2 separate regions of the Homo sapiens genome follow, and region 1 is linked to region 2. Evidence: fine-mapped expression QTL. Tissue or cell type: lung. Region 2 holds a variant in brackets; the other region holds the start of a gene. All regions are shown on one strand. Distances are from middle to middle. Region 1 holds the start of NOL10 (nucleolar protein 10). Region 2 overlaps NOL10 (nucleolar protein 10).

Region 1 (2,907 bases), 36 kb before region 2:
TGCCACCTTTCCCAAAGATGTTTACAGTTTTTCTTAACTGTAACCAGTGTAGAAAATTAAAAATTTGTGGAGGATCTTAAATTTGAGGACAGAGTTAAGGAATATATCCCTACGTACATGGCTAAATGTAAATATGTAGCAATGCCTAATAGAGGCCAGGCACTGTTCTGGTACTCTGGGTAGGGGTGGATGGGGTGGATAGGGAATATAAGGACAAATGATATAGGGTCCACGAAGAACTCTCAACCTAATTCTGATGCAATGTGGTGTTGGTATTTGAGAGTTTCCAAAATGTTGTGGGTAGGAGAGCAAAACAATAATATTTGGGTTTTAGAAAGTAAGGCATAAAATAATTTGTTCATTAAATCAAAGGAAGTAAGAAGATCACTTGGGAAAGTTATAATCCAAAAATAGTTAAGTATTTGAGTTTCAGCAGGAGGAATGAAAACAGATTACTTTAAGGAAATATTTCATAATTAGAAATATCCAGGTTTAGATACTGAAAGTGAGGGCCAGAGATAGGAATGGGTTGAAGATGACGCCACAGTCTTCTTTTTTTTTTTTTTTTTTTTTTGAGACGGAGTCTCACTCTGTTGCCCAGGCTGGACTGCAGTGGCACGATCTCAGCTGACGGCAACCTCTGCCTCCCGGGTTCAGGCGATTCCCCCACCTCAGCCTTCAGAGTAGCTGAGATTACAGGCGCGCGCCACCAGGCCCGACTGATTTTTGTATTTTTAGTAGAGACGGGGTTTCACCATCTTGGCTAGGCTGGTCTTGAACTCCTGACCTCAGGTGATCCGCCCGCCTCGGCCTCCCAAAGTGTTAGGATTACAGGCGTGAGCCACCGCACCCGGCCTACAGTACTTCTAACGTAACATCGCAGAAACACTGGAGGAGAGAAGAGAATACACTTCCACTCGGAATTCGCACCCTGGTCGCCTTCATTCGCTGGGTTCACTCGCTGAACTGCCTCGCCCCCGCCCGGGAGGATGACATCTCGGCCTGGGCAGAGACTCGAAAGCCTCCTCCTGCCGCTCGGGATGCTAACAGCAGGGAGAGCTGTGTCTAGTTTTTTTTTTTTTTTTTTTTTTTTTGAGAGGGAATCTCGCTCTGTCCCCCAGGCTGGAGTGCAGCGGCGCGATCTCAGCTCACTGCAACCTCCGCCTCCCAGGTTCAAGCAATTCTCCTGCCTCAACCTCCCGTGTAGCTGGGACTACAGATGCCGGCCACCACGCAAGGCTAATTTTTTTGTATTTTTAGTAGAGACGGGGTTTCACCATATTGGTCAGGCTGGTCTCGAACTCCCGACCTCAGGTGATCCGCCCGCCTCAGCCTCCCAAAGTGCTGGGATTACAGGCGTGAGCCACCGCGCCCGGCTTGTGTCTAGTCTTGCCCGTAGCAGCGTCGCCGACAGCCACGCCGGGTTGTCAGAGCCTCACTAGTTTTTCTCCCGGCCGCCGCTCTTCCCGGATTCAGCCACCTTCCCTCTTCCGGGAACTTGCCCGCGTGTTCCGGCTCCAGGAAGTGCGTCATCAGTCGGCGCCAGCGGCCGCACGCCGCGGAGCAGGGGCTCGGAGGTCCCGGGATTACGGTGCTCGAGCACGCTGGTGGGAAAGGACCCGGGACTTGAACAGTGTTGTGCGGCGCCATGCAGGTCTCCAGCCTCAATGAGGTGAAGATTTACAGCCTCAGCTGCGGCAAGTCCCTTCCTGAGGTGAGTCACTTCCCGGCCCCCTCACTCTCGAGCTCTTGGGGGTCGTCCTCCTCGTGGGGCAGCCGCCCCTCTCCTCGGCCCTAGCCTCTGTTTTAGCTGGACGCTGGTCACCCCCCGACTCGGGGAGGCCCAGAGGCGGCTGACAATTTCCGGGGGAGGTGTCGGCATTGGGAGACAAGGACACTGCCGTCACCGCGCCAGAAACTGGACCAAGGGATAATCAGGGTCAGTGAGCTTTGCTGGAACTTTTGTAAAGTTCTCTGTTCCAGAGAACGCAACCATTTGGGCCTCTTTGGGTGTTCACAGTCCCTGCCGTACATCGAGGAGGAAAACGTGGCAGATTCGTTGACACATCTCTCCCCCATATGGCCATCAGCTGTTTGTGGAGTCCCTATCATTTGCCAGGTCTTAGGGATACAACAGTGAACAAGGGAGATACAGACTTCGCATCTGCAGAATTTATGGTGTAGAGGACAGTATTTTCGAGACTTGTTGAACTTAACCTGATTCCTAGTCTTAAAGTTGGAGAGGGCTTGGACAAGTCGGTAATTCTCTTCCAATCTTCTCGTGTTTAGTAATGCAGCTGAGATTTAATAATGCGTTTAATATGCAGCTGAGATCCAGCAAGGGGAAGGGTGACTTGTCCAGCATGACACACTTAGGCTCTGAAACTTGTCTTTTGTTTCTTATACGTGATGATCCAGCCTCTGTCCAAGCACTACCACTGAGCACTACCTTTTGTGGAAGCTCATTTCCATTTTGAGACTCTGCACTTGTTAGAAAGTGGTTTTCAAATATGTCACCTTATAGCATGCCACTGTTGGCCTGAGTCCTGCCCTTGGAAAACAGAATAAATATAGCTCTCCTTCCATGCGTCTGCTTCTACAAAAATTTGGAGCCAGTGCTTAGGTTTTTCCTTTCTTCCTAAAATTCTGGTTTGAATAATTCCCTGTCTTCCAGTTGTTCTTCACACCCCATGAGCTTTCTCATTTTGTTCATTCATTCTCCACATGTATTGAGAAGTTACTGTGTGCAAGCAACTCTGTTTTAAGTATTGGGATCTATAGTGGACATTTCAGATAAGGTTCCCTGTTGGGGAAAAGGGAAATAAACAAGTGAGCAAATAAGGCAATTTAAGGTAGTCAAAAAGTACTTTTCGTGGTGAATGATTAGAAGAGAGCTGTTTTGGATAA
Region 2 (2,907 bases):
CCTTCCTTCCTTTCTTTTCTTCCTTTCTTTCTTTTTTTTTTTGGGCAGAATCTCACTCTGTCGCCCCAGGCTGGAGTGCAGTGGTGCTATCTTGGCTGACTATAACCTCCGCCTCCTGGGTTCAAGCAGTTTTGCCTCAGCCTCCCTAGTAGCTGGGATTACAGTTGCAGGCCACGATGCCCGGCTAATTTTTGTGTTTTTAGTAGAGTCGGAGTTTCACCATGTTGGTCAGGCTGGTCTTAAACTCCTGACCTCAAGTCATCTCCACGCCTCAGCCTCCCAAAGTGCTGGTATTACAGGTGTGAGCCACTGCTCCCAGCTGTCTTCCGATTTCTTTCAATACAAGTTAAGCTGGGTACACTTCACAGATTATGAGAGATTTTTTTTTAAAGTTGATGCATAATTCAAACTTCATCTTTTCTTGCCATGTTGACATTATCTTTAAAATGTTGTAATTTTTCTTTTTTTTGGACAGGTCACTTCTTCTCCTTAGGCCTGTTTCTTCATCTATAAAATGGGATTTTTTGATAAATTGATAAGATAAATTCTCTAAGATTTTTAAGAATTTAAATTTTGTATTTGAAGTAGGCTATTTTATTTCTTTACATAGGAGTAGATGGTTGAGTTACAGCTTCAGTTTGACATTGCCAAAGTTGTTGTTCTTTAACTTTTAATACTTCGTTTTTGCTTGCTATTTTTAGGGAAAAATATTTACTTCCTTGGAGCCAGAGCATGACCTTAATGATGTTTGTCTCTACCCCAACTCAGGTATGCATTCTGTAGTGAACGTTCAGTGAGACAAATAAAAAGATGCATTCTGTAGTGAACGTTCAGTGAGACAAATAAAAAGGCTATACTTTTTTAGGTTTTAAACCCATTTTATTTCTTAAGATAGAATTTGGCTTTGTCAGCACAATTCTTGGATATTTAACTTACTTAGAAGAATTAAGAGCAGGAAGTGGTGTGGATGATTCAGAAAATGGCACTCTTAATGACTCAGTGCTCAGCCCGCCCAGCTATTAGTGGAACGTGGTAACAGCATACAGGTAGGAGGCAGGTGAAGTGCTATTTTAGTGTGCTCTTTAGCTCTTTTATGTGATTAGTAATAGTGTGTGGAAATTGAGGGTAGAGATTTGGAGAAAGCTAGATTGCCTGATAATACACAGATGGCTCATGAAGCCATAGGTTTTGTAAATTCTAAGTTGTATGCTATTCAGCAATTTACATGTTAGGTTTCAAAATTTAACAGTGCATTCAAGGCAAATCTGTGAAGAATTTCAGAGTATGGGAGAAAAATGAGAATAGTTTCTACTCTGAGGGCAGAGGTACCCAGATCATCTTGATAGAGAGAAGTAAGGCAGAGCGTGAGAACTCCTATCACATTTGTGCAAAGAGTACTTTGACAGCTTGCTGGAGAGAGAGAGCTTTTACCCTGTGACCAC[C/T]GAGAGCGGAGCAGTGAGAAGATTTTGCTTTGCGTTGAGCTGGAGTGCCGAGTGAGATTTGGTTAGGTGGAGTTGGGGGGCTGAGGTGATTCTCATGGGAGAGCAGTCCAAGATGACCAAAAAGGATGGGCACAGAGGGCTCGGTTGGGGTGGGGAGGAGTGTCCTGTGCCTGAGCTGTGGTGGCTCTGGGAAGGCTGAAGTGGGAGGCAGAGAGTGGTGGGTGGTAGAGGGTTGGGCATGATGTGCTAAATGTCTTGGGCTCCGTGTGCTGTCAGAGAGGACTTGTTCCGACTGTGCTTTCAGAGGCAGGTCTACCCACTGTGCAAAGGGTAGATTGGTTTTGGACAAAAGTGCCTTGGAAGTAACTGATATTCTGAGCTGAGATGGGGAGCACAGGTGAGAGAGCAAGTTTGGAAAGATTATGGCTTCTTTTTCTAACGTGTGAGGATTAGGAGGTGACAGGACAGTGGCAGTATCTGGCACTATCTGGCTTCCCATCAAAATCATCTGCACAGCTTTAAAGGTACAGCTCCCTTGACCTTATACTAGGTGTACTCACTCATAGTGTCTATGGAAAGGGCTTAGAAATGTGTGGTTTTTTTTTTTTTTTTGAGTTGGAGTCTCGCTCTGTCACCCAGGCTGGAGCGCAGTGGCACAATCTCTGCTCATTGCAACCTCTTCTCCTGGGTTCAAGCGATTCTCATGCCTCAGCCTCCTGAGTAGATGGGACTACAGGCACGCACCACCACGCCTGGCTGATTTTTGTATTTTTAGTAGAAACGGGGTTCCGCCATGTTGGCCAGGCTGGTCTTAAACTCCTGACCTCAAGTGATCCGCCTGCCTCCACTTCCCAAAATGCTGAGATTACAGATGTGAGCCGCCGCGCCTGGCCAGAAACGTGTGTTTTTAACACACTTCCCGGTGGATTCTTAGGCGGCAAGCCCTGAACCGATCCGCAGACTTGTGCTTGGGGGGCGTGTCTGGCGTCCAGTAGAAAATGTGGTCTTGGGGTAAGCAGGTCTGTAGATAGAAAGTTTTGCGATTATCCCAGAAGTGGTGGGAATGAATGAGATTACTGATAGGGAAAGCTGGGAGTGAGATAAGAAGTGAGCAGGAGCTGGTTCATTTGGGAGAATGAGGGGGAGGAGCCAGCTGAGAAACCGGATGGGAATGGACAGAACGACAGTGCCAGGCCCCACGGTTTTTGAAGTATGGAAGAGATTCAGTGGGCACTGCTTAGCAACTACTAAGGATTACAGAAGTTGGGGCAGGAAGGAAAGAACTAAGATTGATTGCATGCTGCTGTTATCAATCTGGATGATGGATGCTGTAATACAAACTTATTTAATATTTTATAACTGTGTAGTCAGTGGTCCATGGCTTTTTTTTTTCTTTTTTCTTTCTTTCTGTTTTTTTCTTACCTCTTAAGGGGTCAGAAAAATTGGGTAATTCATTCAGGGTTGG

What was found.
Region 1: it holds the start of NOL10, and the variant in region 2 is fine-mapped to the expression of NOL10 in lung (TOPMed, PIP 0.95).

What each region holds. Positions count from the first base shown.
Region 1 is chr2:10,688,603-10,691,509 of GRCh38, reverse strand. NOL10 (nucleolar protein 10) reads left to right here and starts at 1,535. Exons shown (of 21, transcript NM_024894.4): 1 at 1,535-1,714. The coding sequence starts at 1,649. It also overlaps the pseudogene RN7SL832P. RefSeq lists enhancers at 1,689-1,968, 2,029-2,088.
Region 2 is chr2:10,652,342-10,655,248 of GRCh38, reverse strand. NOL10 (nucleolar protein 10) reads left to right here. Exons shown (of 21, transcript NM_024894.4): 12 at 702-768. Among named protein-coding and RNA genes, the nearest start is that of NOL10, 36 kb to the left of the region's middle. RefSeq lists an enhancer at 94-1,293. The variant C/T (reference allele first, on the strand shown) is at 1,443.